5 separate regions of the Homo sapiens genome follow, and regions 1, 2, 3 and 4 are each linked to region 5. The links come from fine-mapping of genetic effects on gene expression. A gene starts in region 5. Each other region holds a variant in brackets. All regions are shown on one strand. Distances are from middle to middle.

Region 1 (6,373 bases), 63 kb before region 5:
GGAGAAAGAGACGGGTCAAGAAGAAGTTGTAAAACGTGGGACATACTAGAGTATGTTTCTCAACAATTGCAAGGATTCCTTAGGGTGAGGTTGAAGCTGGAAGGGTAGGGGCATTATCCACGGAGTAAAAAAGTCCTTGAGGAAGTGAGAAGAGAACAGATCCAGGGCGCAGGTAACCACATTGAAATTTAAAACCTCTGTATGATAAACATTCACATAAAGATGAATAATAGTCTATTAGAAGATATCTACAGCCCATGTATCAAAGAGTTAGTATAGTGATATACATTAAGAAAAATGAGAATTTCATAAGCAAAAGACAAATGACCAAGAGAAAATAACATGAACAGGCAGGAGGAAAGTTGAATGGCCAAGAAAAATACAAAAAATCCTCAGTGTCATCAGTAATTAGGCAAATTTGGGTTAAAAAAAGAGATGCCACTTTTTAACCTATCTGATTAGCAAAGTTTTTAAAATGTGATAATATCAGTGTTGGGAAGGGTGTGGGAAAGAAGTAATGTCAGACACTGCTGGTTGAAATAGAATTAGTGATACTATGTTGGATGGTGTAGGGCAGACAAAGCTTTACCTCTACCTTCATAGGAACCCCAGCAGGGCCTGAGAATTAGATTGACACAAAACAGACTAGCAGGAGAGGAACATACAGATTTACTTAATTTTAAGTTTTATGTGAGTTGAGAGACTTTATAAAGAAACGACGGCCCAAAGAAGTTGCAAAATCTCAATGCTTTCCTACTATGTTGGACAAAGTGAGGCAATTGTGAAAAAGTAATTAAAATATACAGGAAAGCTAAAGAAAGATAAGAGTTGTTTTAACAAAATTCGGTTGTTTACAGAGAATTGTCTCTGTCTCTGGTGATAAAGATATTTCTTTCCTCCTGGTACAGAGAGGGCATCTTTTACATGGGAGTTTTATATGCTTTCAGGAAAAAAAGGGAAGTCAGAAAGTTCTGCTTGAAGAACTGAGCACGTTGGCTCATACCTGTAATCCCAGTACTTTGGGAGGCTGAGGCAGGAGGATCACTTGATGCCAGGAATTTAAGACCAGCTTGGGCAACATAGCAAGACACCATCTCTACAAAAAAAAAAAAAAGAAAGAAAGAAAGAAAGAAAATTAGCCAGGCATGGTGGTATGCACCTGTAGTCCCAGCTACTTGAGAGGCTGAGGCAGGTGTATCACTTGAGCCCAGGAGATCAAGGCTGCAGTGAGCCAAGGTCGTGCCACTGCCCTCCAGCCTGGGTGACAGAGTGAGACTTTGTCTCAAAAAAAAAAAAAGTTCTGTTCGCACCCACTTTTTAAAAGTGCTTTTAGCTCAAAATAACCCTTATGCCAAAATGGCATATTCTGGAAAAGCATATTCTGCCACTCTTCAATGTCAACTTAGCCAACTTATTCAAATTTAAAATGTGTATATTCTTTGGCCAAACAATTCCATTTTTAAATATATACCTGTCAAGGACTGAACTGTGTCCCCGCCAAATTCAAATTCATATGTTGAAGTCCTAACCCCCAATACCTGAGAATGTGACTGACTGTATTTGTAAATAGTGTCTTTCAAGAGGTAAGTAAGGTAAAATAAGGTCATTTGGATGGGTCATAATTCAATATGACCAGTGTTCTTATAAGATTAGAAGATTAGGACAGGCACACACAGAGGGAAGACCATATGAAGACAAAAGAGAAAATGATCACCTACAAACCGAGGAGAGAGGCCTCAGAAGAAACCAACCTTGCCTCAGACTTCTAGCCTCTAGGACTATGAGAAAATAAATTTTTGTTTTTCAAGCCCACCGGCCTGCAATATTTTGTTATGGCAATCCTAGCAATCTAATACAATACCCTAGAAAAATATCTGCACGTTTTTATGAGGCAGATATTTGTGGGACAGGACTCAGACTTGTAGAACTTGATTCAAAGGAATCAGAATGGCAGAGGACAAAAGAGCACAGGACTACAGCAGACACCACTGGCTCTACCTTCCCTTCAACCCCTTTACTGCACCCATGCTGACTTCTAACTGAGGCACCCGCTGTCTGTGGCCTGAAGTCTTTATCTCACCACTCCCATGGCAGGAGTTGCCAGGGCATTGGCGCTATTGATGCTTATTCATTCCTATCCTCATCCCAGCACCTGTCAATCAGTCAATGACTGATGAGAGCTCCTTCAACCTTGGGTGGGGTAATGCTGAGATACGTATTTTACGCAAGCTCCTAGAGTTTTCCCAGGTGTATTAAGTTCCAGTTACCCAGCAGGTAGCTGGTTTAATAATGCATTCCTTTACTGGATGCTTCCTTGATCAATCTCCAGGGTAGAGTCATTGTTGTAGTTGCAGGCTTCTATATAAACAGCATCATCTCTCTTGTCTTTCTTTTTTATTATCATAGTCAAACATCATCTTTTCCACAACTTGGTTTCCACCAGTAGATAGTCCTCCACTTCCTCCCTAGCATGAGATATACATCCCACTGCCACTGGTCTATAAATGTTCTGTTTATGTATATTGTACCACAATAAAAGATGTTAAGACCAATAAATAAGTAAATAAGTGTTCTGTTTTGCTACAGAGGGAATCTCTGATTTATCCCAGATATAAGAAGTTACTTGGAAAGGAGCCCCAAGAGATATCTTAACAGAAGTCACAAACTACATGCTTTCAGGGGACAGGCAGGTGATATAAAGGGATGCTGTAGGGCATTGTGAGTAGTAGGAGCTGGGATGAGAAGGAAAATGCATACACACTTAAGAGCACCACACAGTGAGCCTGTCACTCTCCCTGATGAAGAAAGATATTTGCAATAGCTGACTCAACTAAAAATTGTTAAGATGGCACTTCAGGAAATGTGGTGCCCAGTACAGATTTACTGACTAATTGAGATTTCATAATCAGTAGTTGCTTGGGATGCCAGAAACGTCTTCCACTGTCAGTGAGCCCTCTGCTCCATAGCTCCACTTCATCACTTTGCATTTCCTTCTCAGGCCTCTACCATCTCACTTCTGATTCCACTACTCCAACTGAAACTACACTCTAGGGTCACGAATACTCTAATTGCCAAAGTCAATGACACCATCTAAGTCCTCATCCTGCTGGACCTCTCTGCATCTGTTAAAATAAATTTTCATTTTTAAAGCCCACTGTTCTGTGGTATTTTCTTAGGGCAGCCCTAGGATGGGTTTCCTCAAAGTTTTGTCAACTTTTGCATTTGGAAATGCTACCCTGCTTTTGGTCACCCCCGTCTTTCTGATTCTACTCTTTGTCAGTCTCCTTTGCTGATTCCTCTTCCTCTGCCTGTCCCTTAATTTCTGGTATTCCTCAAGGTTCCCTTTTCAACCTTTCCTCTTCAGACTCTACCCAGTTTTCCTTAACAAGTTCATCTGATCCCATGGCCTCAACAATTTAGATGCTATTTCCACTCTATCCCAAGCTCCTATGCCATATTTCCAAATGACCATTGCACACCTCCCCTTGGATGGCCTGTGTGGCAGGGATTTTGTACCTATTCCCTAAAGCCCATTCTCTTCCTTCCTAGGAACCCAGCTTGGCTATATTTCCCAAGTTCCCTTGCAGTGAGCTCCCAAATTATTTCAGCAATATTTGATTCTTCTTAAATTACTTCAAAATGTCTCACAATTTGAATTGTTATGGTCTCTCATGGGAGACCATAAAAACCAGCAGCA[GA/G]AAAAATTTATGCTTAATTCTCTTGGGAATGTGCATGTGATGTGATTAGACAATGGCTCACCCAGGTTTTTGTTTTGTTTTGTTTTGTTTTGTTTTTTTAGCTCAGCATAGAGCTAAGGCTAGGAGTACTTAAGCCAGAGGGAGCTTTGCAATTTCAGTTTCTTAGATGGGTGTTCTCCAGGTAGAGCTCCACCTTAAAAGGAAAAGGGGTAAATGATAGTGCCCTTTCTGAGCCAAATAGACTTTTTCATAACATTGTCATGTGCTTGGAAGATAGCTGAAAATTTGTTTGCCTTTTAAATTTGATTCCATTATCCAGAGACTCCCTCCCTCTGTTCTAATAAATACATCAGCTATGGGATGGCCTGTGAAGCAAGGTATGGCAGCCAGCCTTCACAGGCTTCAGGTACAGAAGACCAATCCTAACTGGATGTTTCATGGCTCTGTGCCTTGGGGCAAATTGTGGAGTCTCTCAGGGCTTACCTCCATCAATGAAAATAATACCATATTTTTGAGGGTGTATTGTGAAGATAAAGGGAGATAACAAATGTGGATAACATGGTGTCTGCCACCTGATCATAATTATCGCCATGCGTCGATACTATACTAGATGCTTCGCACACTATCTCATCAATCATACAGTCCTGCCAGGTAAGGCTTCTCAGCTCCCACTTTACAGATGAGGAAATGGAGACTTAAAGGCCCAAGGCCGACCAGGCATGGTGGCTCACGCCTGTAATCCCAGCACTTTGGGAGGCCCAGGAGGGCAGATCACCTGATGTCAGGAGTTCAAGACCAGCCTGGACAACATGGTGAAACCCCTGTCTTTACTAAAAATACAAAAATTAGCCAGGCGTGGTGGCACATGCCTGTAATCTCAGCTACTCGGGAGGCTGAGGCACAAGAATCGCTTGAACCCGGGAGTCGGAAGTTGTGGTGAGCTGAGATGGCGCAACTGCTCATCAGCCTGGGCAACAGAGTGAGACTCTGTCTTAAAAAATAAAAACAAACAAAACCAAAACAAACACAGCTAGTAAATTGCAGAGTTGGGATTTGAACCCATGTCTGCCTGTCTATGAAAACCCATGTTCTGTCTGTTAAACCATGAGTAAGTGCTCCATAAATATTCATTTCCTTTTTGTCACTGTGCAAGTAACTTCACAGCCCTTTGTATAGCATCACATCTTGGCACTTCCAAGTTGTCAGTGCCTCTCTAGGATCAATTATAGCACCCTAGACACAATTATGCAAAATTTCAGCTTTGTTTCTTTTTTTTCTTAACAGTAATAAAGCAGTAGCAGTCTTTCCAGTTGTGCCACAATATTAAAATTCATTTGAAGATAATACTAATAAATTTGTTTTTTTTTCTAAAACATATTACAAATCTAAGCATTATCTAGGTACCATAGTAATCACTTTTTCCTCTTCCTTCTTGAATAGGAAAGTGAAGGCCTGAGCTAGCTGAGTCCCCAAAGAGAAAGGAAATGCAAATATAGGAGGTATACAATGTCTTGTACTCATTGGCCTCTTAACTATTGCTTGTGGAAAGCAACAAATATAATTATTTTCTAGTTTTAAAAAATAACAGGTGGAGGCCAGGTACAGTGGCTCACACCTGTAATCCCAGCACTTTGGGAAGCCGAGGTGGATGGATCACCTGAGGTCAGGAGTTCAAGACCAGCCTGACCAATATGATGAAACCCTGTCTCTATTAAAAATACAAAAATTAGCCAGGCATGGTGGTGTGCGCCTGTAGTCCCAGCTACTCAGGAGGCTGAGACAGGAGAATTGCTTGAACCTGGGAGGCAGAGGTTGCAGTGAGCCGAGATCGCATCACTGCACTCCAGCCTGGGCAAGAGAGTGAGACTCCACCTCAAAAAAAAAATAAAATTAAAAAATAACAGGTGGAAAGAATCATGATTGTATAGCACACTGACTGGCAATATGGCTGCACATTGGAATCACCTGAGGAGGTTTAAAAACTATTGCTGCCTGGGTCCCACCTCCTAGAGATTCTGGCTTAACTGGTCTGGGGTACAACCTAGAATCAAGATGTTTAAAAATTCCCCAGATGGTCCTGATGTACAGCCAGGTTTGAGAATCACTGGCTCAGCAGAGCACAGATGGAATTCATGTCTCAAAAATTCCATAAGGCAGCCTTAAGTCAGACTTCCTGGGTTGAATGCCAGCTACACCACCTACTAGGTTTGTAACCTTGGCAAGTCATTTCAGTTCCCCATGTTCCCTTTTGCCCATTTAGAAAATGAGGCTCAAAATATCTCATGATATCGGGAGGATTTAGTAAGGATATATTGATAAAGCACTTAGCACAGTCTCTAGCATAGGAAGGTAAACACAAGGTTATTATTGTTGAACTGTGATTCAGCCCTGAAATTTTCAGGACATGAGCAAGCCTGGCATAGAAAATTCAGCTCTCAAGGGTAAATGTACCAGAAGGCTGGCCCTTTATTTAAGTACTTTGTTCTCATCCACCACAAAATGAACCTGTTTTCAAGATAAGCACTTCTTGTCTAACACAAAATGGACCTTAGACATCCCTGGGGTGAGGAAAGTAATATCTTCAAGAAACCATCCTAAGGAGCATGTACTTGTTGGTTCTGGGAAGAAGCACTGACTCCAGATAATGTAGAGGAAGAAATCTCTTTAGTTGGTTT
Region 2 (6,373 bases), 43 kb after region 5:
TAAGGAGACTCTATTAATATATCATATGTCATCATTAAGAATCTGCTTATTTATTTATTTACTTATTTATTTTGAAACAGAGTCTTGCTTTGTCACCTAGGCTGGAGTGCAGTGGCGCAACATTTTCTCAGTGCAACATCCACCTCCTGGGTTCAACTGATTCTCCTGCCTCAGCCTCCTGAGTAGCTGTGATTACAGGTGCCTGCCACCACACCCAGCTAATTTTTGTATTTTTAATAGAGACAGGTGTTCACCATGTTGGCCAGGCTGGTCTTGAATTCCTGACGTCAAGTGATCCACCTGCCTTGGCCTCTCAAAATGCTGGGATTACAGGCATGAGCCACCACACACAGCCAAGAATCTGCTTTTTTAAAAAGAAAATCCACTAAGCACAAATCTAGCTAATTCGTGGATTCAGCCACATCTACCTGAGTCTGAGCCTGAAGCAGCCATTATTTCTGGGGATGTGGGCCACACACCTGCAGGCCAGGAAGGGGCAGCCCACACCGCTGAGGTCGGGAAAAGCCACCGGTGCATCCAGTTCAAACTCCCCTTGGCTCCTCAATCCTGCGCTTCTCCTTTCTCTGGAACCATATTCTCTTTAGTTGGCAATCACCACATGTTTATTGGGAACCTCTGTGCCTGCTTCTTTCTCTTCAGTCCCTTCTCCAGATTTGACTCCCACCCCCACAAATAAAGCCCAGACCTGCTGATTTGTTCCCGCACAGGGAAGACAGAGGAGCCTCCCAGGGTGAGACATCAGGGACACAGGTGAAGGAGAGGAAGCTGAGGTAGGCTGCGTTCAGTGGAACACCCACCAGGGCCGATTCCTCCTGTCCACACCCTAGTGCACACACCACCAGTACCTCAAGTGCCCCCAGCAGTGGGCAACACATCACCACAATTTACTTCTATATGCCTCAACCTCAAGTTGAGAAACTGCTCAAAAGTGAGATCTGAGGTTAGGGAGAATCTAAGGCATTCGTGGCTTTCTGCAGAAGATAAACCCCCGTTTTTCTCTGGAAACTCCAGCAATATATTCACCCATGTCCCTTAGAGCCATGCAGTTGACCCAGGCCCTTGAGTTCTGACAGAGGCACAGGAGCCCATGGAGCTGAGAAAGTTGTCTGTTTATAGCTCGCTTTGTCCTAGTAGCCATGGCTAAGTGTTCATGGGGACCATCGAATTTTGATCAGCATTTCCCAAATTGATGGATAGTTCCTACATAGGCTGAACTGTGAAGGGCCTAAGTTTCTTGTCTGTACTTGCCTACTGCCTAAGCTGCTAAGAGATTAGGTTTTGATTTTAGAATTTAACCTAGTCCTTTCCCTCTAGACCAGATGAGTCAATTTTTCCTCTTAATATGTTTGCCAATAGCAAAAATAACTTTCCTAACCATCTGACACTTAAACCAAAGATTCATTATTTTTAACCAAGAGGACAAAATGTTCCAATAAGAATACTTAATACATCAGTGAAAGGTAAGCCCCAGCTGTGGCCCAGGAGACCACTAGAGTCTCCCAAAGATATTCTTCTATCACTGCTAGATCTGCCATTCAACCTCTAGAATATAGCCAAGAAGAAAAAGTATATGATATTTTGGCAAGATAACCTGCACACTATAGACCCTGAACTCAGTGACTCTCAACAGCATTTTTCTGTCTTTAAAATTTTTGTTTTGTTTTGTTTTGAGACAAAGTCTTGCTCTGTCACCCTGGCTGGAGTGCAGTGATGTGATCTCGTCTACTGCAACTTCTGCCTCCCAGGTTCAAGTGATTCTCCTGCCTCAGCCTCCCAAGTAGCTGGGACTACAGGCACGTGCCACTATGCCCAGCTAATTTTTGTATTTTTAGTAGAGACACGGTTTCACCATGTTGGTTGGCCAGGATGATCCACCCACCTCAGCCTCCCAAAGTGCCGGGATTACAGACATGATCCACTACACCCGGCCAAAAATTTTTTTAATTTTTTAATTGTTTAATTGACACATAATAATTGTACCTATTTGTGGGATACACAACAACGTTTTGATATATGTAATGTATAGTGATTACATCAAGGTTTGGGTTGATTTTATGTTTTTCAGGACTAGAGTCTGGTATTCAGACTGGGATGCATGTTACAGTTCCTCCTCCTCATTTTCTGGGAGTGGGAGGAGGTGATAAAGTCCACTGTCATCTGTACTTCAAGCTCTAGACCAGGTCCTCACGGCACGGAACTTGAGATATACCAAGGAGTTAAGATTATGTCTCATACATAGAACAGAGACCCATGGGAATAATAGAACCTTATGATTTTTAAAATATTTTACTAAGACCCTTCTTCCATATTTCTCTGGATTGGGACACAGGACCATTTACTGGTTATAAAGCCCTGTTTACTAAGGCAAACAAAAAGGTGTAATTGGCACCCTAGGTTTTAAAATTTATAAATATCAAGTGCATGTCTGTGTGTGTGTGTATCTGTGTATCTGTGTGTGTGTGTGTGTGTGTGAAGCTTTTGGAACACCACTTAAGAATTCCTAAGAAAACCACACGTCAAGCCTCTATCACACACACTCAGGTAAATGGGTCTGTTCTGAAGACCAAATTTTGCCTTGGGTGATGTGTTCTAAGATCTAATCTTGGGAGGATCAGGAGGCCAGGAACACAAGCAAGCCCATTTGACTCTCACAATAAGCCACATTCTCCAGTGGCAGGTTTAACATCAACATACATTCTCAAAAATCAGGGGGAGGTATAACTAAATGAGCACTCACTCAGACAAACTACAGAGGTATTTGGTAAATCTATTTGTAAATAAAGTGAAAAAGAAGAGGCTCTGCTTTCTTCTTAGCCCTGTGTTGATAATTAGTTAGAGAAAAGATTGAAAGAGGTCGTATGCACAATCCTGTGTCAAAATAAGAATTCCTGTTACGCTGGAACAATACTCTGGCTTCTCACTTACATGAACTCTTACACAATAGTTGGTTCAGAAGCAATTCAACTCATCAAAAAATGAATAGCAATTTTAAAGTGGAACTGAGGACCTATACAATAAAGCTACAAGAAAAAGAAAAGAAGAGAAACAAGACAAACAAATGACACAGAATCCCTCCCAGAAAATATTGCTATAGGGTAGATAACATGTTTGACAAAACGTATCATTTTTACAAGTTTTAGAAATCAGTGAAACAATCAACACTGTAAAAGAAATACACAATATAAGAGCTTGGAGATGACATGGGGAAAAGATACAAGGAGGCAAAACATGAATTACTGCCAAAACTCTGGAAAGAAATAGAAAAGAATTGGAAGCAGCACAGAAAATACACATTTCCTATAACATGATAATGGACATAGAGAAGAGGAATGAAAATAGTAAAATAAATAAAAATGACTAAGAGTTAAATAAATTGAAAGAGAAAATGGTAGTTACAGAAGACAAAGAAAATTAATATTTATATAACTAGTGACCCCGAAGAAGATAACCAAAATAACAGAACATATAATATCTAACAAGAGGCCAAGCGTGGTGGCTCATGCCTGTAATCCAGCACTTTGGGAGGCCCAGGCAGGCAGATCACTTGAGGCCAGGAGTTTGAGACCACTCTAGCCAACATGGCAAAACTCCATCTCTACTAAAAACACAAAAATCAGCTGGGTGTGGTGGCGCATGCCTGTAGTCCTAGCTACTTGGG[AG/A]GCTGAGGCAGGAGAATCACTTGAACCTGGGAGGCGGAAGTTGCAGTGAGCTGAGATCGCACCACTGCACTCCTTGGAAAACTGTGGCAACCCAACAAAGACAGGCCCACCAAGACCTTAATCATTTAGGAATGACAGTTTGTGTCTTCACTTGGAAAAAAGCCTCCAACCAAATGAAAGGCTGGCGGATGAAGAGGGAAACATGGGGTGGGTGAGGGAAGAGGCAGCTATAGGATATCAGCTTAGGCCTCAGAATTTTCCCCCTTTCTGACACTACCTAGATGAAAGCATTGGTTTGTCGCTGATTTAAGTTTTATTTCATGAGCATAATCATTACCCTTCAGTAGTCATGGTGATATTTAAAGGATTTTGTTACTTTTATCCAAAAGAAAAATAAATATTTTAAAGTTTTTTGTTTTGTTTTGTTTTTTGAGTCTCACTCTGTTGCCCAGGCTGCAGTTCAGTGGCACAATCTCGGCTCACTGCAGCTTCCACCTCCCGGGTTCAAGCGATTGTCCTGCCTCAGACTCCTGAGGAGCTGAGATTACAGGCACAGGCCACCACGCCTGGCTAATTTTGTATTTTTAGTAGAGACAAGGTTTTGCCATGTTGGCCAGGATGGTCTTGAACTCCTGGCCTCAAGTGATCCCCCTGCCTCAGCCTCCCAAATGCTGGGATTACAGGCATGAGCCACCACACCCAGCTTAAAGTATTTTTATATCAAATACTTCTTGCTGTGCAGCTCCCAACACATTGGATCAATGAAGGGCATTCATTCCCTCAGGAGAACATCAGATACAGCCAAGAACACAGGGGTCAGGGGATGCGAGTGACTAAATGTGTCCTGGCCCCATACAGCCAGATTGGTTGCAAAGAGGAAAGGTGCCAGGGTGGGTGTGGGATTCCTGAGACCTAAACTGGATCCTGGCTTTCAGACTGGAAAGATCCCAAGGCATCAGACTCTCCAAAAAGAGAACTGCTTGGGCAGGAAGGAGCTCTAAGGGCTGAATGTGGGACGAGGCAGGGAGAGGACCAGAGGCGGCCACCTCTCCAGAGTGCCCCTTGACTCCCTGCATCATTGATGGACTCTAGAAACAGCCAAGTGATCCCAGAAATAATCACAAATTATGGTATCTGTCAGGCACCATCTCAGGGATAAGGATCTAATGGAAAACACTAAAGGTCCTTGCTCTCATAAAACTTACATTCCAGGAGGTATCAGGCAATAAGCAAGTTACTGAATAAACAAACAAGGTCAATTCAGATTGGGAAGGTATTAAATAATGGAATATTACTCAATGATATTAATTGAAGCATCATTTATAACAGAAGCTAAAGTGTCTACAAATATGCAACTGGTTATATAATTTATTCCATTCCATGGAATACTGTGAAAATACTAAATTAATTAAAAGACAAGGAAGAACTGTAAGTGTTCATAGGGAAAGATGTCCAGGATTCACTGTTAGTGAAAAAAGCAGGTTATAGCATAATATGTATATGATAATCCTATTTGGTTTATATTCTAATGCAGTTGTATATGTATAATGACTAGAAATATATGTACCAAACTACAGACAATGGTTATTTTAGAGGAGTGAGATTATGTTGGGGGTCAATAGCAGGGAAAACTTTTACTTTCTACATTATGCACTTCTACATTGTTTGATTTCAAAATAAGCATATACTATTCCCCACCTACCTCCAAAATAGGGGTGGAGGAAGACAGTGGTAGCTCGAAGTGGCAAGAAAGAACAGCCTGTTTTGCAAACTTCTATTATTTATTTAATTTGACGCTTCAGGTAAATTGAGGCATATTGCATTTCAAGCTATATATCAAGATATAAATGAAAATAAGCACCTTTATGAATTTCATTATCTTAGACACTGTTCTAGAAGTTTCCAAATTATTTCTTACCAGATAAACTTTTTTTTCAATTTTGTAAAAGATAAAATATGCTTGTTTCTGGAATACAACATGTAAAATTTCATTGATTCTATATATGATATTAATGTATAAAATGCAAAGTTGGTTTTTACCTTCTACTGTAACTTGGTTTAGAACTTAACTTTGATGAGTGTCCTGTGTCTCTGGATAGAGATCTTAGAAATATTTGATGTGTTTTAGTCCTATACAGAATTCTAAGTTAAATATTTCAAGATGGCTTTGGTCAGCCAAGCCTGACTGCTGGTATGCAGACATGAGCAAATCACTAAGAAAAATAATTAAAACCCTTACTTTGGATAGGCAACTTGGAAACCAGCATATCTGTTGAATGTATTAACAATGACTCATAACCACATGAGTTAAATATACTGAGGAATTAAGTGTTTAGCTCATAGTTCTGGGTGTCCTGAGGCCTGGGATTACTATAACTCCAACAGAAAATAGTGATTGGATTAGATACTGGACTCAACTCCTAACTTCAAGGCCAAGAGTTTGCTAATAATGTACCCTGTAGGACTTAGACAGGAGGGGAACCTCCCTGCCTCATTCTGCCTTCTGTTTTCCAGGACTCTGTCAGGCAAGAGGGGGAAAATATCTTTGCAGCAGGCTGTCGTGTGATTTGGATTATTGCTTCAGATGCGAAGTCCAAAAATCTCAGAACAAAAGGAGTTCTGGTGACAAGTTGTAAGGAGAAAGAAAGTTGTAGGTGACAAGTTGTAAGGAGAAAGTTGTACTTCCTCACCGT
Region 3 (6,373 bases), 120 kb before region 5:
TAAGAGCTTTGTGTATATTAACTAGTTGAATCCTCCACAAATTCCTTAAAATCAGAGCTATTATTTTAGAGAAGAAGGAACTAAATCACATAGAAGTTAGGCTGCTTGCTCAAGATCACTGTGTGTTCCTAGCATGTAGAGTGATGGTTTTCATTAATATAATCTCTGGTGGGGAAATTAGGAACCATCTGGTCTTGTCATTGGAGCTCAGCTATCAAGTTGCTACTTAATAGGTAGTTTCATTAAAAAGCAGAGGACTATATCAAAGTATATTTCTCAAAATGTTAAAAACTTAATTATCATACAAATAAATAGTGAGCAGGTATCACTATCTTTTTAACTCATTGATGAGGGTCACAGCTGGATGATAAAGTCAGCTCAAAAGAGAATATGAGAATGTGATTAACAGAAGGGCGACATGAAGAATCCTTGTGGTGATGGAGCTGTTCTGTATCTTGGTTGCAGTGGTGGATAAGTAAAAGTGCACATGTAATAAAATCATATAGGATTAAGTACAAATATACAAATGAGTACAAATTAAACCTGGGGAAATCTAAATAGGACGGGTGGATTGTACCAATGTCAGTACCCTGGATAGGATCTTGTACTACAATTCTGTAAGATGTTACCATTGGGGGAAATTAGAAAAGAGCACACAGATCACTCTGTACGATTTCTTACAACAATCTATAGATGATTTTGAAATAAAAAGTTTAATTTAGGCTGGGCACAGTGACTCACGCCTGTAATCCCAGCACTTTGGGAGGCTGAGGTGGGCGGATCACAAGGTCAGAAGTTCAAGACCAGCCTGGCCAACATGGTGAAACCCTGTCTCTACTAAAAATACAAAAATTAGCTGGGTATGGTGGCGTGTGCCTGTAATCCCAGCTACTCAGGAGGCTGAGGCAAGAGAATTGCTTGAACTGGGACCCAGGAGGCAGAGGTTGCAGTGAGCCAAGATTGCACCACTGCACTCCAGCCTGGGATACAGAGTGAGACTCTGTCTCAAAAAAAAAAAAAAAGTTAATTTAAAAACAAAATAAATAAATGGCTCAGAACAAAAGGGAATATGAGAAACTTTTAAAAATAGTTGGTGGAAAGAAGGAAAGCTGAGATAAGATTGCTAAATTAAATACAAAACTAGTTACATCCTAAAGGACAAAACAAAAACAAAAAAATTCCACAAAACCCAAACCCATAGTCTTTGGGGTTCTCTTCTCTATCAGACAGAAAAGAAACTCATCATGCATGATCAGTTCTCAGAATTGTAAACTGTTTGGCCCTAATCAAATGTGCAAACCAAGTTGCACGCTCTAGGCCAGGATCTCTCAATGCCTCCAGCACTATGGAAATTTTGGGCCCAAATAATTCTTTGTTGGGGGTGCTGTCGTGGGCACTGTAGGATGTTTAGTAGCATGTGTGGCCTCTACAGCTGAAACATCTCCACATGTCCACTGGGGGTAAAGTCATGCTGGGTAGGAGCCCCAGAACACCTTTAGGTGAGCTTGTTGGGAAGTGCTCCTAGCATAACGTTAATCATCTTTTCTGCATTATCCCAATCTCTGGATAATTGTTCTTCACAAATAAAACTACCATTTGGAGGGTCACTGTGCTGAATAGAAGCACAATGTGCTCTATGCGGAGTCACAGACTTTTAGCAGAACAGGATCCTTAGAGATTTTCTAGGCCTGCTTCACCCTCCTTGTTTCCCAGCTGAGGAATACCAGTGGAGATGGCTCGGCTAAAGTCACATAGCTAGTTCATGTGGGTGTGTCCAATTCAATCCTGTCTTCTTCCAAATGGATGTGAAGCAGTCACTATGAAGTCTTTAAAACTTTGTGGGTACCAATTATGTGCCAGGCCCTGCGCTGGGCTCACAGCCAGGTGATGGCTAACACGAGGTCCTGCTCTTGAGGCACTGATGGTCTTCCTGGGGAGATAAGGATGTAGGCAAATAATTACTGTGGGAGGGATATTCAGTAGTGCAGGCTGAGGATGAAGGCTGTGATGGCCTTAGAGTCTCAGGGATAAGCCCTAAGGGAGTCTGATGAGGACCAGAGTTCCCAGCTCCATGATCAAAGAGAGGTGGTTGTACTCATTGCAGAGGGAAGTTGTTGTTCCTGGCGCAGAGGGAATGTGAGGCCCAAAAGTGAATCTGCCCACAGTGCAGGCCTGGGCCAGGTTCTGGGATTACTGGGAGGCCCAGAAGACAATGATAAGCAGGGGGAGTGCAGAAATGGGGAGCTGTGAAGAACAAGTGGAAGAAAGGAGCAGATTTATAGCCAAGAGATCAGGCCAAAGATAGGACAGGGTGGGCGAGTGGGAGGAATGCAATTCTGAGATGGAGAAATTAAGACAACTAGAGTTCCAGGAAGAAGAGAACAACTGGGTAAAATCACAGCAGTGTTGAGAGCATGGTGGTGCCCGTGGTTTACTGTTAGTGGTCACTATGGTTTCCAGAAATCTAACTGCATGAATGGCACCCAGGAACTGAATCTGGGACTTCCTGGCTGGCTGCACCCTGCAAGGCTCACGTGCTTGGCCTCAGAGAGGAAAGGGACTGGAACTAGGACTCAGAACAAAAATTTGGCAGAGCATGAATCCAGGTCTGGCTGGCACAGGAGCTGCTTCCAAGATATTTTACATCCAAAGCACCAACCTCACATGTTGTGGCAGTTACAGGAAGGAGGCTTCCAACTTTAGCATCCTTCAAGCCCTTGCCTCGTTCCTCGTGACTCACCAGGGAGAGAGAAACTGGAAAACAGGGACCAGAAGGATGTAGGGAGAGGATTAGACAAAATAAGGGCCAGAGCAAGATGCAAAGTGGAGATGCTGCCCGCCAGTTCTTTGGGATTCAGCAGGCAAGCCTTCCTTGGGGAAACCCTTTCAGGCAAGGAGGAGAACAAGTTGAGATGTAAAGCAATGATTGTGTGAAAATAGATAGGA[T/A]TGAAAATGAACCAAGACAAAATTGTATCTGCCCAACTTCTTGAATTCAGGTGACTCTGGATGACCAAATATCTATGTAATGGCTTTTCTTTTGTTCCTTCCTTTCTGGATAATTGGATTAGAAAACTCTAGTAAACCTCAGTTATAGCATCCCTGAAAACACAGCTCAAAAGGGGAAAAGTTGAAGAGAGCTGGCTTTCCTTTCTCTGGGATATAAGATGTAGAGTTTAGGTTTCGTGATGAGGTTTTGAGGCCTTTCAGAATATTAAAAGGAAGAGAGAGAATTCTCAGGAAAGGGTGGAGGTGCTGTAGGAACCGACTATCCCACAACGGTTCCTTCCTGCCACTCCCCAGAGGTGAGTGGTTGTGCTCTGGAGGTGGAAGGGGAGGGAATTAGCAATTTTGGAGTGTTCATCTTTGCAAAAGCTCCCTAGGTGAGTCAGGCTGTGAGCAGGGTGTTGTAGGAATATCTTTTTTGTTGTTGTTTTTGAGACAGAGTCTCGCTCTGTCGCCCAGGCTGGAGTGCAGTGGCGCAATCTCAGCTCACTGCAAGCTCCACCTCCCAGGTTCACACCATTCTCCTGCCTCGCCTCCTGAGTAGCTGGGACTACAGTCTCCCACCACCACGCCTGGCTAATTTTTTGTATTTTTAGTAGAGATGGGGGTTTCACCATGTTAGCCAGGATGGTCTCGATCTCCTGACCTCGTGATCTGCCCGCCTTGGCCTCCCAAAGTGCTGGGATTACAGGTGTGAGCCACCTCGCCCGGCCAGGAATATCTTTAGGTAACCCCATGCCGCTAATAAAATTCTCCATGTGCTGTAGCTAAATAGTTTCTGTCTTAGTGTACATTGATTTCCTCGGGACCTAGGGCCACAGCTACAGGGGATTTGGACCTAATAGCCATAACAAAATAAATGAGAATTTGGTTAATAGTAGCTGATATTAAAACTAATATTTATTAGCAGTTTCTATGGGCCAAACATGCTGCATACTGGTGGTGGCACCCACTTAGGTAGCAGGTGAAAAGTTGGCTTCTTTTAACCTGGGATTTTGCAACCAAAGTTAAGAACTCCAAATCCATGTTATAGAACATACCTTATGCTGTTCACTGAACATAAGAAATGTATTCATATATATAACCATACTTTATATACTGGATAGATTTTGCAGTGTCGTTCTGGGGCTGACTCCGGATCCCTCTCCATGAGGATTTTGGGTGAAGCACCTAGCCGGGCATGAGACATGAAATTTCCTTTCTGCTTCATCCAGAGCCTTTTCTTCTTTTATCTTCCTCATTCTGCCTCCTTTGCTGTTTCATATCCCACCCTGGTTTGCCACAGAATTAATTAGCCTCCAAGGAACCCCCATTTCTTCATCTGCAGGTGTGCAACATCTCAACTCTACATTTTCTGAGGCTCCAGCCAGCTCCCTTCCCAGTATCCTACTGTTTAGATCTGCACAAGGCTAGGGCTTTGGGCTTTTGAACATTTACTCCCCTTTGATGTGAACTCTGCAAAGTGCTTGATTCAGCTGCTCTTTTGCCCAAATGGCTTTTATTGCTTTCTGCCTCATTCTGTAGTGTTGAGAAGAGGGACAGAAAGACGTAACATGTGGTTATATACGGAACACCTGGGCTTTTAAGAGAACAAATTTTCCATCTGACAATCAATGATCTCTAGTAAGACTTAAATGTAGATTTAACATGAAGTAAGTAACAAGACTCACACTGTCTTCATGACTTCTGGAATCCACAGGTAGGAGCAGATAGGAAGAGGTTTCCATCCTCACAGTGTTTGACTGTGAAGTCCTGATAGTAGAGACCCTATGTTATTGATTATTATTGTGTTGTCCACTTGGTCCATACATCTCCATCAAGAAGGCGCTAACTGACCAGGAATTCCTGGGGTCTGCATGAATCCCAAGATACTTATCCGTGAGAGAACTTTCACGGATAAGCTTTTCCAGCTGCAAGTGACAGAATGACCTACCAGGCTGCTAAGTAGCAAGGAATTTGTTATCTCCATAGCAAGAAACTCAGAGGCAGGGAGGCTCCAGGGTGAGCTAACTCCATAGCACAGGGAGGCCAGGCTTCCAGGACTTCTTCCCCATGGGGACAGGTCTTCATTCACTCTCAGGCAACACCATTCAGAGGCAGGAAAGGAAGTTTCCTCCATTATCTTTTTCCCAGAAGCCCCACAGAAGATGACCTTGACATATCATGGGACAGAATTCAATCACATTCTCACCATAGAACACATCACTGGAAAATGAGAGGATTTAACCATTATTATCTCAAACCAGTCATGTTTTATTTCCTGGGGCTGGGGGAAGTGCTGCTGGGGAGCTGGGAGAGCCAGGATTGCCATTTCAGCCTTTGTCATAGGAAATGAGGTCTGCCAAGGAGAGTGAAAATGGCTGTTGGGTGGACACCAGCAAGATGGCCAAGAGTCCTTTGTCAGAATCCCAAAGATGATGGGAAGTGGAGAAAAACATGGAATGTCTTATTTCCCTTTTGAGTCCTAACCACTTCCACTGTTCTTATTTTCCTGGTTTTGCCCATTAGCCCATTACCCTCTTGCCTTTGCACTTGCCTGGAGAGACAACAGTTTAGGGGCTCTGCTGGTTCAAGAAGGACTGTGCAGGTAGCATGGCCACACACCATGTACAGGTAAGAGAGGGTATGGGGGGACCAGATCTGGGGAGGTGGGTATGGGACAACTCTGCAAAACCAGGTAATCTATAGCTTGGGAGAGCCTCTCAGGCCCAGGTGTCATGAAGCATATTTTCCGGCAGTGGGTGGACACTCAGGCTTCAGTATGACTGCCGTGGAATTGCTAGCAGTGGTCAGTTCTTTTCCAACAAAGTTGCAGTGAGTAGCTATCCAGCCCCACCACCTCTGCTCCATACCTGCTCATGAACCTAGGCATATAATTATTGAAGCTGGTTGCAGGCATAGAAGTTATGGTTGTGTCACTGGAATACCTAAGTTTACAGAGTACCATTAGGTATTAACTGAATTCCTGGGCATGGTCCCTGAAAACAGAATGGGAAACTCCCATGATGTGAAGTGTGTTCGTTTCCATTGCTACTGCAACAAGCTACCACAACTTTAGTGGCTTGAACAATATAAATGTATTATCTCCCAGCTCCATAGGTTAGAAGCCTGATATGTTGTCATCAGAGCTGCATGCCCTACTGGAGGCTCCTTGGGAGAATCCATTTCCTTTCCTTTTCCAGCTTCTAGAGGCAGCCTGCATGCCTTTGTTCATGGCCCTTCCTTCATTTTCAAAACTAGCAACATTGCATCTCTCTGTGCCTTTAAAAACAGTCATATCTCCTTTGAGTCTCTCTCTTCTGGTTCCCTCTTTTACCTTTAAGGACTTTGGTGATTACATTGGGCCCACCAGGATATTTCAGGATAATCT
Region 4 (6,373 bases), 44 kb before region 5:
ACCTGAGGCTGGGCGCAGTGGCTCACGCCTGTAATCCCAGCACTTTGGAGGCTGATGCAGGTGGACCACAAGCTCAGGAGTTCGAGACCAGCCTGGCCAATATGGTGAAATCTCATCTCTACTAAAAATACAAAAATTAGCTGGGTGTGGTGGTGGGCACCTGTAGTCCCAGCTACTCCGGAGGCTGAGGCAGGAGAATCGCTTGAATGCAGGAGGCGGAGGTTGCAGTGAGCCAAGATCGTGCCACTGCACTCCAGCCTGGGTGACAGAGTGAGCTTCTGTCTCAAAAAAAAAAAGACTGACCTGAAAAATACAAGTCATAGGGCCTGTTTGTCAACATGATTGTACTGATAGTATCTGATCGAAGAATCGGTGTAGTTTTTAATAATTGATACTATAAAACTTGAAATTACGGCTTATGAATATCTAATGAGAGGAAGGAATAGATTTTCAAATGGGGATATATTCTTGGAGATAGAACATAAATGCCTTTGCTGAATTTTTATTGAAATTAATTATACTTCTCTAGATTGCCAAGCTAAATCAATATCTATACCATCAAATTCAGTAACCAAATTAATCACAACCTTGCAAAAATAAAATAAAATTAAGAAAGACATGCCCTGTGATACATACCTATTTCAGGAAACCTAGTTAACCATGGTTGAATAGCCATCACTTCCTTAAGAAGGAATACAATTTGCTATAATTGTCAACACAGAGGAGCAGTAAGTTATTTGTGAAGTTGGTGACTTGTGCCATTTATTGAAGAGTCAACCCAACAAGCCCCAGATCAATAAACAAATGTCAACTAAGGGACATACTGTGAAATACAGTAGGCAATACAAAGAAATATGATCTCGCGGCTGCTATGAGAGAACACTCAAGTATTAAGAAGGGGCTAGGAGAAGCAGCTCAGAATGTTATTTGCAGCTTTTGTTTTAAAACGAACTCCTATAGCACTGCTTTCAGACATCATCAATTGTATTGATAATCTTTCATTTTTCTATATGGCCTCTCTTAGATCTTTAAAACCCTAAAGTCCAGATTTTAATCCGAGACATGGTGACTGCTTAGATAAATTTCATGTGTGAAGATAGAACATTTTAAAATATTAGCATTTGTTTCTTTCTCTCTACTTTTTCAGGCAGCAAAAAGATGTCCTCTTGGTGGCCTTCAGAAAAGGGTTCTTGCAATATAAACGCAAAGAAACAAAAGGGATCTGATTTTATCTTTTGAGTTTCTATGTCGATCTTTGGACCCATGGCTGAAAAAACAGCTTGAGAGAAAAGAGTTTTCAAGAACAAAAGCCAAATCCCTCTTAGAGTTGGTTAGCCTGCATAAAACAGAAAATGGAAAAGCTTGAATACAGTTTATTTCCCTTTCTTGTAGAAGAAGTCTGGTAGATAGGCTAGAGCAGGTGTGGTTATCAGAGATTCAGACTCTGTCTATATTTCAGTTACCTCCTAGTACTAGCTTGCAGCCTCAAGATTACCTGCTGGTACAAGATGGTTGCTAGAGCTCCAACCATTATAACTACATCTGAGGCAATAGGAACTAGGGAAAGGCAAAGAGAAGACCTTCCTGCTGAGTCAGATCACTTACGCAGCCGTCTCAGAAGTACCAGGCAACTCTTACGCTTATATTTCATTTGTCTGATTGTAGTTACATGACCATGCTGGGCTTCAAGGGAGCCTGGAAAACATAATTTTTTTAGCAGGGCACACAGCTGATTCAAAAAAAGAAACCAGCACTTGTTACTGAAGCAGAAAGGGAGAATAGATGTAGAGTTGCAAATAACAGTCCTTGCCACATCTCTAAAGAACCCAAGGGGGTAAAGTTGATACCTAAGTGTAAGTTGAGAATAATTCTTGATTATGCAGGTGCAAATTTTCTAACCCTAGATGAGATAAACATTCTTTGGACTGGAGGATGAGCAAAATAACAGAAAGGACATGAAAAGAAAATAGATGTTGTGCATCCCCACGCGGGTCCCTGTGCCCCAAGAGTCATCATCAGATCCTCCAGAGGGGGCACCAGAAACCTCAGATAGACTGGCAGATCCAAACCAGAGAAGTCCTGTGCCTTGCACCTGATAGAGGCCTGGTAGATAACAAGCTTCATGGCATTTCTCCTGACCTGCCTGGTGAGATATCCATACTGGAAATGGCAGCCTGGCATGTCTAGGCAGCAAAGCCTGCAAGAACTCCATGAGATCCCGTGTGATCCTACAGTAGTTTGGAAGAGCACCCAAAATGTCCCAAGGCCTTCACACTCCCTTATGAGGGGCTCAAAAGTAGCTGAGAGGGGCCAGCAGGTTTGAAGACTAAGTCAGAGATGAGAAGGATATGGGGTAACTTTCCTGGACCAACTACCAGAAACCAGATGGGGAACCCAGATGTTCTAGAAATTTCCTTTAGGGATGATGTACAACTCCGCAGATGCCAGCAGGGACAGATGCCTCCCTCTCCCTCAACACGTGGCTCTGTGAAAACTCCTCAGAATTTAGACATGATCTAGGGAACAGAGGGTGGTAGAAACCCTGAACTGACTGGGGTTGGGGGGAAGGCAGATTTGAGAGTGAAAATTCTGATTTGACTATGTTTTCTTTAAAATGGCTGGGGTTAAATTATCCTACCAGGCAGAATGGAGATTTAAAATTAAAATTCAGTTATAGAAAAAATTATTTTATAAAACTGAGTGTATGACTTGTGAAAATTCATCTGCAAAACATGCTTTCTCAGTTTGTCAATTCTCACTACTAAAAGCCACTTTTGAAAGCTCAGAATTTTGGCACATTCTTCATTGATGTATGAAAAGTTGTAACAAACAAGTATTTTGCTGTTTCGTCATTGCTTCAATAATATTGTACCTCATACTCATGACTCACAGATACCCTTTTTAGCCCTTGCCAACAAGCCAGGCATTGTTGTATTTGTACAACAGATACAAATAAAATTTGTATTTCCCAACACTTTAGCTGCATCTAAGTGCCCAATTTGTCCTAGCTTGTTCAGGACTTTACTGGTTTTAGCAATATAGTCCAGTACCCCAGAAATCCTTCCAACAATCCCAGACAAACCAGGATGTTTGGTTACCCTCTCTGCATCAGAATCACCTGGAGGACTTGTTAAAGCACAGATTCCTGGGCTGCACCCCTAGAGCTTTTAATTCAATAGGAGTGGGGATGGGGGCTCAAGATCTTTTATTTGTAACAAGCTCCCAGGCTACAAATCTAGGGACCTTGTTGCACTGACCAAAGACACAGGTCACGGTTTTTTTCCCCAACATTAACATAATAAAGCAATTGCGTCA[A/G]TCCATAACCAACATAACAATGACAAATCAATGATGGATTCTTAGCAAAAACTTTGACCAAGGTCTCAAGTTTTTCTCCTTTTCTTTTATAGCAGTTCCCTGAACATGGCAGCTCTGTGGAGCTGTACCAGAGTTCATTCGTGGGAGGTAAGCTTAGAACTTGCCCCTTAGCCCTTCCAGAGGTTCATTAAGCATCTAATTTTTCATATTAAATCCCTTTCTGCTAAAACCAGCAAGAGTGTTCTGTTATCTGTAACTAATCTTGATGCACACATCATGGGGACACTGGGTCACAGGGTTTGATAAGTGGTAGAAGAAGGGGGAAAGAAGTTTGTGCACATTTCAGAGACAAGAGGAAAAGGAAAAGCAGAGATTTCCTGTGAGTGCAAAGGCCTGTCTAGGCAAAGATGCCCCTGCCCACCTTGGGCCATTTACAAGGAAAACACTTACAAACCCAGCAGTAGAAAACCATATCAATACATTCCCAAACAATTACTACAGTCAGCAGAGATGACATCATTCTCCTTCCCATCAGAACAATAAGCCTGGCTCTAACTCTATAAACAGTAAAAGCAAAATGTGTTTCTCTAACAGATGGAAATGAATAGGTTTGAAGTTGATAGTGATCTTTCTGTGGTCTAAAAGGCCTCACCCAATACAAATATCTTACCCTAGACAATAACAAATGTAAACACAACCAAACACAGTGAACCCCCTTGAGCCGAGTGAAGGCTGCCAGAACCAGAGACCCAGGTCCTGGCAAACTCAGACATTTAAGGACAATCTAGAAGAAAGGAGTCCCTAAATTTTCACACATCTCCAAAGAAATCAACTTCAGAGCTATTCCTTTTGAATTTTTATTTAAGCCTTAAAAGTTAATTCACCATGTAAGGTAGAGAGGCAAAAAGAGATGACAGATATACTCTCCACTACCAGGTCACTAATCTGCTCAATCAAGCATGGCAGGGAAGCAAGTAAACCATGAAATCTCAGTGTAGACGACCCTTGATTTTAACTCAAATATGCCGATTAAATCCTTGACATTGGATTATGCATATGTAAGGTACCAGTGTTAGATGTTAAAGCTAATATTTCTCCTGATGAAGCAGCACCTTTGCTAGGACTTAGTGAGTTGGTAAGCGTGCACTGACAACCCTGTCCTACAGCAGTGGCATCCACACACTCAGGGAAGTACCACACATCGCTATAGTCTCATTCTCTTGTAGTGTTACAGGCAACTTACACCATCTCTGATTCACTTAAAAAATTCTCAGCTGACTTGCAAAATAATTGCAACAGACTCTCTTTGTGTAAACTTGATTACTATTTTGTAAGGTCCCGTTTCTATAAGGCCAAGGAATCTGTGAAATCCGTATTTTTTTCCTTCTTTTAAAACTTGAATTTTTATCCCAATAGATACTTTTTACCCATAGGACTTAATACAAAGTATAAAATTGTCATATGTTATGGTTTTTACAGTTTTATTTCTGCTTTTCTTTCCTGCTGCACTTGCAATGAACTTACTGTAATAATTGTATCCATTCATTAGAAGGCACTTTATATCCAACAAATCTTCAAGTCACAGGGTTTGTAAGAGGAAAAGAGTGGTTAAGAATATAATGACTAGTTTCTACTCTTGAATATTTCCAATCTTTCCTCAACACAGCAGCAGGCCCTTTGTGAGATTTAAACCCAAACACGGCTCTCTCTGCTGAGAATCCCTCAATGGTTTCCCATTGCGTTCAGAATAAACACAAGCCCCGTTACAAGGCCTACAATAACAGGCCGCTCATCTAGGGTGTTATGTGAGTTAATAAATGTAAAATTCTTAGAAGTGTGCCTGGCACACAGCAAGTGCTCAGTGAATTCTAGCTGTCCTTCTCCTTCCTTCTCGCCCTTTCCCTCCTCCTCCATGCTTACCTGGCAATGCTTCCCATGACCTCTCCCTTGCCTCACTCTGCTGTCAGCCACCTTCTCCCTCCTCCAGTATGCTGCATTCACACTGGTCATCCTCCAGATTCTTGAACACATCAAGCTTTTGCCTATTTCAGAATCCTTCCCCAAGCGGTTCCTTCCCTGTCATCCAGGTGGCCACTTCTCATCTTTTAGGCCTAAATGGCTCCTCCTCAGAAGAACTTCCTTTTCTGCCTAATCTAAATTGGTCCCCCCTATTATTTTCCCACAGACTAAGTTCTTTTCTTTTAGTGTCCTAATTACAACTTGTAATTGATACTTGTTTGTTTTAAATGTTCAGTGTCATTCTTTCCCATCAGCCCTTAAACTCTCTCTGTTAGGAAAGAGGACAGATGTTTTGTTTGCTAGTTATTTAACACTGTGTTTGCCATCTAGAGGAAACTCAATTAGTATGGAAGGAGAAAAAGAAAAATTATTTAAAAGTAAATTCAATATTTATTAAATGTTTACCATGTGGCTAGGCATTCTACTAAATACTTAGAATGTATTAGCTCCTCTAATCTTTCAAATATCTATGAGCTATGTTATTATCTCTTTTTCACATTTGTAAAAAGTGGAACTCAAAGAATTCATGTAAGTCATACCGGTAATAAGTGTCAGAGCTGAGATTTGAACTGAGGTCTTTGTAGCTCCAAATCATTTGCTTTTCCTCTCATACCAAGTTGCTTCCAGTAACAAGGGAGTGGAAGTATGTGAAATTACACAATATGATAAATAGCTCCTTCTGCCTCATTTATGGCATGTAAAATTTCCCTGAGTAAGTGGTTCAGTTGTCCTTCTGGAATTGAAACATCAATGAGACAATTTTGCTGCCATGTAATGAGCTTTTCCCCGGGCATGTGCTATATCTTTTATCAGCCCAAGTAATACTTCAGGGCTTGTGTACTTACCATGTATTAATTGTATGACTTTAAAATATTGAGTAGTGCTCCCTCAAGGGCATGCTCCCTCAAGGGCTGTGTTTTCTGTCAGGTGCCATTGTGGACTTGGGTTTGTTAAATGAGAAAGTGATCAATTTCCAGAGCAACCAGAAGAATACCCTGCAGAGTGAGCTCAATGGAAAGAAAGCAATCAAGTGTTAAGG
Region 5 (6,373 bases):
AGGCAAAGCAATCATCAGAACTAGACTCACATACGGCAGAGATGTTGGAATTATCAGACCAGGAACTTCAAATAACTGTGATTAATATACTAAGGGTTGTAAAGGTAAACGTAGACAACTTGAAAGAACAGACGGTTAATGTAAGCAGAAATGAAAATTTTAAGGAAGAATAAGAATTGCTAGAGATATAAAATTCTATAACAGAAATGAAGCATGCCTTTGATGGATTCATTAATAGACTGGACATGGTTGAGAAAAGAATCTCTGAGTTTGAGGATATGTCAATGGAAACTTCCAAAATTGAAAAATAAAGAGAAAAAGGACTTAAAAAAAAGAAACAATATCCAAGAACTGTGAAACAACTACAAAAGTATAACATATGTGTAACAGGAATACCAGGAGAAGAATTAGAGAAAGGAACAGAAGAAATATTTGAAGCAATAGTGACTGAAAATTTCCCCAAATTAATGTCAGTCACCAACAATGTTAGACCAACTCTCTAAAATCTCTTCCAGAAGATAGAAGCAGGGGGAATACTTCCTAGCAGCATTGCCCTAATACCAAAACCAGACAAAAACATTACTAGCAAAGAAAACTATAAACCAATATATCTCTTGAACAAAGATGTAAAAATCCTCAACAAAATATTAGCTAGTAGAATCCAGCAATGCATAAAAAGAATTGTACAGCATAACCAAGATTTATCCCAGGTATGCAAGGCTGGTCCAATATTTGAAAATTCATTCATGTAATCTACCATACCAATAGACTAAAGAAGAAAAATCACATGACCACATCAATAGATGCAGAAAATGCATTTGACAAAATCCAGCACATTTTCATCATAAAAACTTTCAGCAAACTAGGGACAGAGGGGGAACTTTCTCACTTGCTAAAGAACATCTACAAAAACCCTAAGGTAACAATATACTTAATGATGAGGAGCTTACCTATAGAGGAACAAAAATAAAGAATGACATCCAACTTCTCAGAAACCACGTAGACAAGAAGAGAGGTGGAGTAAAAGTGTTCAGAGAAAAAAACTACCAACCTATAATTCTGTACCTTGCAAAATTAGCCTTTAAAAGTAAAAGTCTGTTTCTTCTACTTTTGGTCACCACTGTCCCCTAGCATCAGCCCAGAGGAACAATGCAAAGAGAAAGAGAAGGAAAATGAGGAAAACCGTCAGATAGTTCCATATTTACAGATGAAGAAACTAAAGAGGATCTGAATAATTTGCTCAAGTTCACACAGCAAGTAAATGCTGGAGCTAGGTTTTGAACCCAGGGATTTTGAACTCCAAAGTTTGTGTTCTTAATCTCGTACCATTGGGATGAAATTGTACAGTGAAAGACAAGCGATGATATAGATGATTGCCTAAGTATTCCAAATCCATCCTGACAAAAAAAAAATCATTCTAGTTCATCACTGCTCACTATATAATTAAATACAATGAAAAATAAAACAGGCTTTATTTACTTCTGTATAAATCAACTTACTACAATTTTTCCTTCCAAATAATGGAACAAGTATTCACTTGAATTTCAAAACTATCGTTTTCAAATGATACTTTAAAAGTATCGTTTTCAAACGATATTTTAAAAAGTATCGTTTTTAAATGATACTTTTAGTGATACTTCACTGCCTGGTAGTCACTAGAGCCTGATCACAAAAAGATCTCATTAAGTTCGTAGAAACTGGAGAGAAATAGTCTTCCAATGTAGAAAATTAGAAATTTAGGGGAAAATATTCTTCCTACATAGAAATTTATTCTGCAATACATCAACTATCCAGCTCTTAATGATGTTAATATTTCTTCATCACTACCTGTCTCCCAACATCAGTAAGCTTTTGATAAAACTGGGGAGGAATTCCCCACTCCAAATTCGTCTTTCCCCACAGATTCCAAAACTCTTACTCTGGTTGTTCAGGGTTGTCCTTCTAGGTATGGAAATATGACATTCCTTTTCTGCAACAGGATGATTTATCTGACAAGAATAGCCTCCATCTACAAGTTACTTTGCATTTTTCAAAGTACTTCTACAAGTTCATTTGCTTCTCATACTATTCTGCCTGTTTCATAGGAGGGCCTTACAGGTTAGGTGTAAACACTTGTAACGAACTTGGCACTATTTGACTTACAGCCAGTGCTCAATTAACGTTAACCATCATTACAACTATTGTCATTCCTATATTGTGAGGAAACTATGCCCCTTAAAGATTAGGGTAATTTATCTAATATCTATGACAGAGTTGGTACCCCAAACTAGGTTGATTTCTACAGCAGTTCAACTTCCTATTAGGGTTTGTATCAATAAAACTGTGGGACCCGCCAGGGCTGGAATCCCACTGCTACCTGAGCATCCAGTTGGTGACCAGGCTCCCCGAATTAATAAAAGTATTTGTTGTTGTTTTTATAGCAGTTGTCCAGGAAGTATCTCCTTTCGAACTCAAGTCACTTGGGCAATTGGCTTTACAAAGCAAATTGGCTCCGTTTAAGGATTCTTGACTCCTGAAATCCGCAAGGAAGTGGGTTCTTTTAGAGCCAGCGCCAAGAGCTTCAAAAAATCCTTCTAAGGTGAACCCCTCCGGACCCGGATAGCGAGATGGGGCTCAGCCTTGCGCCTCGGGGGTCGTAACAGACGGCAAGGTGGAGGTGGCTTCCCGGCCCCGCAGCCGGACCTCGGCACCCCGAGCCCGTTCACCGGGGCCGGGTCCTGGCGGGCCGCGGAGTGAGGCCGGGCGGCGCAGCGCAGGCGGTGCCCGGGCGCAGGGCCAGTCCCGCCGCCGCCGCCGCCGCCGCCGCCGCCGCCGCCGCGAGCCCGGACCTGCCCGCCCGACCTGGCGGCGCAGTCTCGCGGGATCGCTCAGCTCTCGCTCCCCGTGCGGCTCTCGAGGCAGCTCCAGTCCCGGACGCAACCCCGGAGCCGTCTCAGGTCCCTGGGGGGAACGGTGGGTTAGACGGGGACGGGAAGGGACAGCGGCCTTCGACCGCCCCCCGAGGTGAGGCTTCCACGGCTGGGACTGGGCAGGGGCCGGGCGGGTGCCGGGGGAAGCGGGGAGGGCCTCGAGGGGCGAGGGGCCGCGGCTGGGATGAGGCGCGCCGGGAGCCGCAGGTGCTGGGGAGGCAACGGCGGGACGGCCCGCACCTGAGTTTCCTCGGAAGCGGGAACCGGCTCTGAAAGGCGATGCCGGGGCCCCGCGGCGCCGCGCAGGCCAGGAACGCTGCTGTCTGGCTCTAGGCCTGGGGCAGGTTCCCGGGTGTGGGGCGCTGGCGGACCGGGCATCAGTGTGTGTTGGGGCGCGGGTAATTCGTAATCCGGGGCCTACAGCCTTCCTCCCGCAAGGGGACTGCCTTCGCCCTTCCCCCGGGACAGATTTGCGCACTTTCCTTTCGACGGCAGCACTACACCCTCCTAGCCAGTGAAAACTGCAATGTTGCTCCTCCACTGGAGGAATCCTAAAAGTCTCCCTCTAGTTGGCCTTACGAAAATCGAGAAAACTACATACCCAGAAGACTGCCACAAAAACTGACTCTTCAGAGTCTTTTACAAGTTTAAGAACTCTTTGGGTCTTAAGGAATTTCCCAGGGCCTTAGTTTTCTTGTACTTAATAAGCTTTCCAACAGGGGCCCTTAGATTGTATGCTTATATTAATCCTTTATAATTTACTCCGAATCACCAGCTTTCCTTTTTTCCTCCATCTTACTCTTGCCATTCCCTCTTTTTAACCCTGTCTTCCATACAGCACCAACCTCCTAGCATCGGTTTCCTAGAGGTGCAGCTTCCTTAGCAAATGATATATTCCATGCTAAGGCAGGTGGAAGAGTATCTCGTTAGGACAGAATTTTCCGTTGTTTTTCCAGTGTTTGTTACCTGGGGTGAAAATCTTAACTCTGCACTTTGACTCCACATTTGAGTTTATGACAAATGTTGCTGATACACCCTCCTTTTGTTTTTACAGTAATTGACCCAGGACTCATTTTCAGGAAAGCCTGAAAATGAGTAAAATAGTGAAATGAGGAATTTGAACATTTTATCTTTGGATGGGGATCTTCTGAGGATGCAAAGAGTGATTCATCCAAGCCATGTGGTAAAATCAGGAATTTGAAGAAAATGGAAATGTTTACATTTTTGTTGACGTGTATTTTTCTACCCCTCCTAAGAGGGCACAGTCTCTTCACCTGTGAACCAATTACTGTTCCCAGATGTATGAAAATGGCCTACAACATGACGTTTTTCCCTAATCTGATGGGTCATTATGACCAGAGTATTGCCGCGGTGGAAATGGAGGTGAGTAGTGCTTCATACGTTTATTGAATAGTAGTTTATGCTCTGTTCTAGAATAAACTAGTAAAAATAAGTCTATTTTTAAACAGAGCCGATTTCTTCAAGTTGTGTACAAGTTGTGTTTTGAAAAGTCCTTTTGAAAATTAAATCCCTCTACTGACTTATGTTTTGTGTACCTTTGCGGCCCTGTTTAGTAGATTCGTTTGAATAGGGTTCATTTTATATAATGAAGTATGGTTACACATGATTTCTAAATACCTTGTACCTAGAAAATATTTTGCTTTCCTGAATCAAGTATGATAGTTCTTCTAGAAATGCGAATTCTGAATATTTTTCTACTTCACTGAACATGTAATATTTATTGCCTGGACTAAAACTGAAGAAATTTACAAGTTTTTATAAGTAGTTGTAATATTCACTTGGTACAGTTTTTCTGAAATAAATAAATTATCAGAATATTTTGTTGCTGTAGACTGTATTTTAAGGCTATCACAAAGTCACTAAAAAGTGACTTTGTTTTCTAAGCATAGCACTTATATGTTCTTTATAAGATACTTGTTAAAAGAAACCACTTGGGAGGAGTACAGTGACACTAAAGATTGCCTTAGGTGCCTTAGTTACCTGTCTCTGGTTTAGAGATATGCAAATTACTAGGGAGTGTGAGAAGAAAGCTACCTGTACAGACAGGAACCTGCCTTCCCATACAGATTTGTTAGGTTGTTAAGTCTCCTGAAGGAAACTAGACACATGCATTGTTTTTGTAGTTTTTCTCCAGAAAAACAGAATAGTAAAGGCTTTTTTCCCTCAGATTGTTGCTAAGAGAGGAAATCCCTACAAATTTAATATATATACTATTTTTAAAATTGATTAGATTTGATTTTGCAGCTTTGAAAGTTTTCTATTGTTGTTCAGTTGAATAGTTGTCTGACTGCCTCATTGTGGACTCATGTCTGGAATAGGAAAGCTTATAAATACTAAGTAGATGTTATTTAAAAGGATAGTACAGATTATATTATTGTTATCTTTCAGTGGTTTTTTTCAAACTGATGCTAGATGTCCTTTTGAACTGAACAAATGATGCACTGAGACTTTCATGAATCAGAACCATTTTGATGGTTCAATCTGATTCAATATGAAGTATATAGTGAGAACACTGTGAAGCAATAATTACATCATTCATTCACTTTTTTGCTGATGATAATATGTTTTGTAGTGTTCATGTTTTAATAGTGTTCCTAAATTTTTTAAATCTAATTTCCTTTGTATGTGGTAACTACATACATTTTAAGGTTTTTGTTTTTTCTTTTAGAGATGGGGTCTTACTATGTTGCCCAGGCTGGTCTCAAACTCCTAGGCTCAAGTGATCCGTCCTGCCTCAGCATCCCAAAGTGCTAGGATTACAGGCGCGAGCTACTGCACCTGGCTGACCATTTTAAGTTTGAATGCTAACAGTGACCTTATAAATTCATATCACCTAGACTCAAGAGAGATGCATCCCTGCTATTAAATGCCTGTAATTATAAGATGGTAGCAACTAGCTTTGTTCTGCACGTCTTTTTAAAACCAAATTTTTTTTACTTTCAAAAAAATTACTTTTTAATTTACCTAGCTTCTTTCCCAAGTAGTTTTGTGCCTGGATATTATCAAGAAGGCTTTTTGTTCTTACCTCTTTTATATGATTGCTAATACTACCAATCTCTTCATTATATAATTTTCCACTTATAACTAACCTTTCTCATAGCCTTTACTAATGAAGTTTTTTTTTTTGCTATAAATCATACTTCAGTAAATTTAAGGATACAAAAGAAGAGAGCCATCAAGCAGTCACAATACCAGCATTAACCTAAGTCTATAGAAGAAAGGAAAGAGAAATGAAAAGGCAAAAATAATGTCACCCTGGCTCAGACTTTTAATCCCTATATGTAATTTCTCAGTGTATACTATTGTGTTTTTCCTACTGCCCCTTTCCTATTTATCCATATACAGTAGTATTCTCTTTTAGTTCCTGTATTTGAATGTCCAAAATCCTATAAGTTGAGAGTTGTAAGTGACCCTAAAGATCATATAGAGCTTCTTAACCTTTT

What was found. PIP is the estimated chance that this variant, and not a neighbour inherited with it, causes the effect. A credible set is the group of variants that fine-mapping cannot tell apart.
Region 1: its variant is the best candidate, but not a certain one, in a credible set for the expression of FZD6 in whole blood (INTERVAL, PIP 0.72).
Region 2: its variant is the best candidate, but not a certain one, in a credible set for the expression of FZD6 in whole blood (TOPMed, PIP 0.58).
Region 3: its variant is the best candidate, but not a certain one, in a credible set for the expression of FZD6 in whole blood (INTERVAL, PIP 0.59).
Region 4: its variant is the best candidate, but not a certain one, in a credible set for the expression of FZD6 in whole blood (TOPMed, PIP 0.67).

Annotation. Positions count from the first base shown.
Region 1 is chr8:103,233,277-103,239,649 of GRCh38, forward strand. No RefSeq gene overlaps it. Among named protein-coding and RNA genes, the nearest start is that of FZD6, 62 kb to the right of the region's middle. The variant GA/G (reference allele first, on the strand shown) is at 3,698.
Region 2 is chr8:103,339,011-103,345,383 of GRCh38, forward strand. No RefSeq gene overlaps it. Among named protein-coding and RNA genes, the nearest start is that of CTHRC1, 29 kb to the right of the region's middle. The variant AG/A (reference allele first, on the strand shown) is at 3,680.
Region 3 is chr8:103,177,856-103,184,228 of GRCh38, forward strand. The region is part of intron 1 of BAALC (BAALC binder of MAP3K1 and KLF4); the gene reads left to right. Among named protein-coding and RNA genes, the nearest start is that of BAALC-AS1, 8.9 kb to the left of the region's middle. The variant T/A (reference allele first, on the strand shown) is at 2,947.
Region 4 is chr8:103,252,214-103,258,586 of GRCh38, forward strand. The region is part of intron 1 of LOC105369147 (a long non-coding RNA gene); the gene reads right to left. Among named protein-coding and RNA genes, the nearest start is that of FZD6, 43 kb to the right of the region's middle. The variant A/G (reference allele first, on the strand shown) is at 3,316.
Region 5 is chr8:103,295,993-103,302,365 of GRCh38, forward strand. FZD6 (frizzled class receptor 6) reads left to right here and starts at 2,906. Exons shown (of 7, transcript NM_003506.4): 1 at 2,906-3,003; 2 at 3,964-4,292. The coding sequence starts at 4,116. LOC105369147 (a long non-coding RNA gene) reads right to left here and starts at 2,826. Exons shown (of 2, transcript NR_148216.1): 1 at 2,357-2,826. RefSeq lists enhancers at 2,482-2,982, 2,983-3,483, 3,337-3,386 and silencers at 2,587-2,636, 2,647-2,816, 2,937-3,186, 3,049-3,343.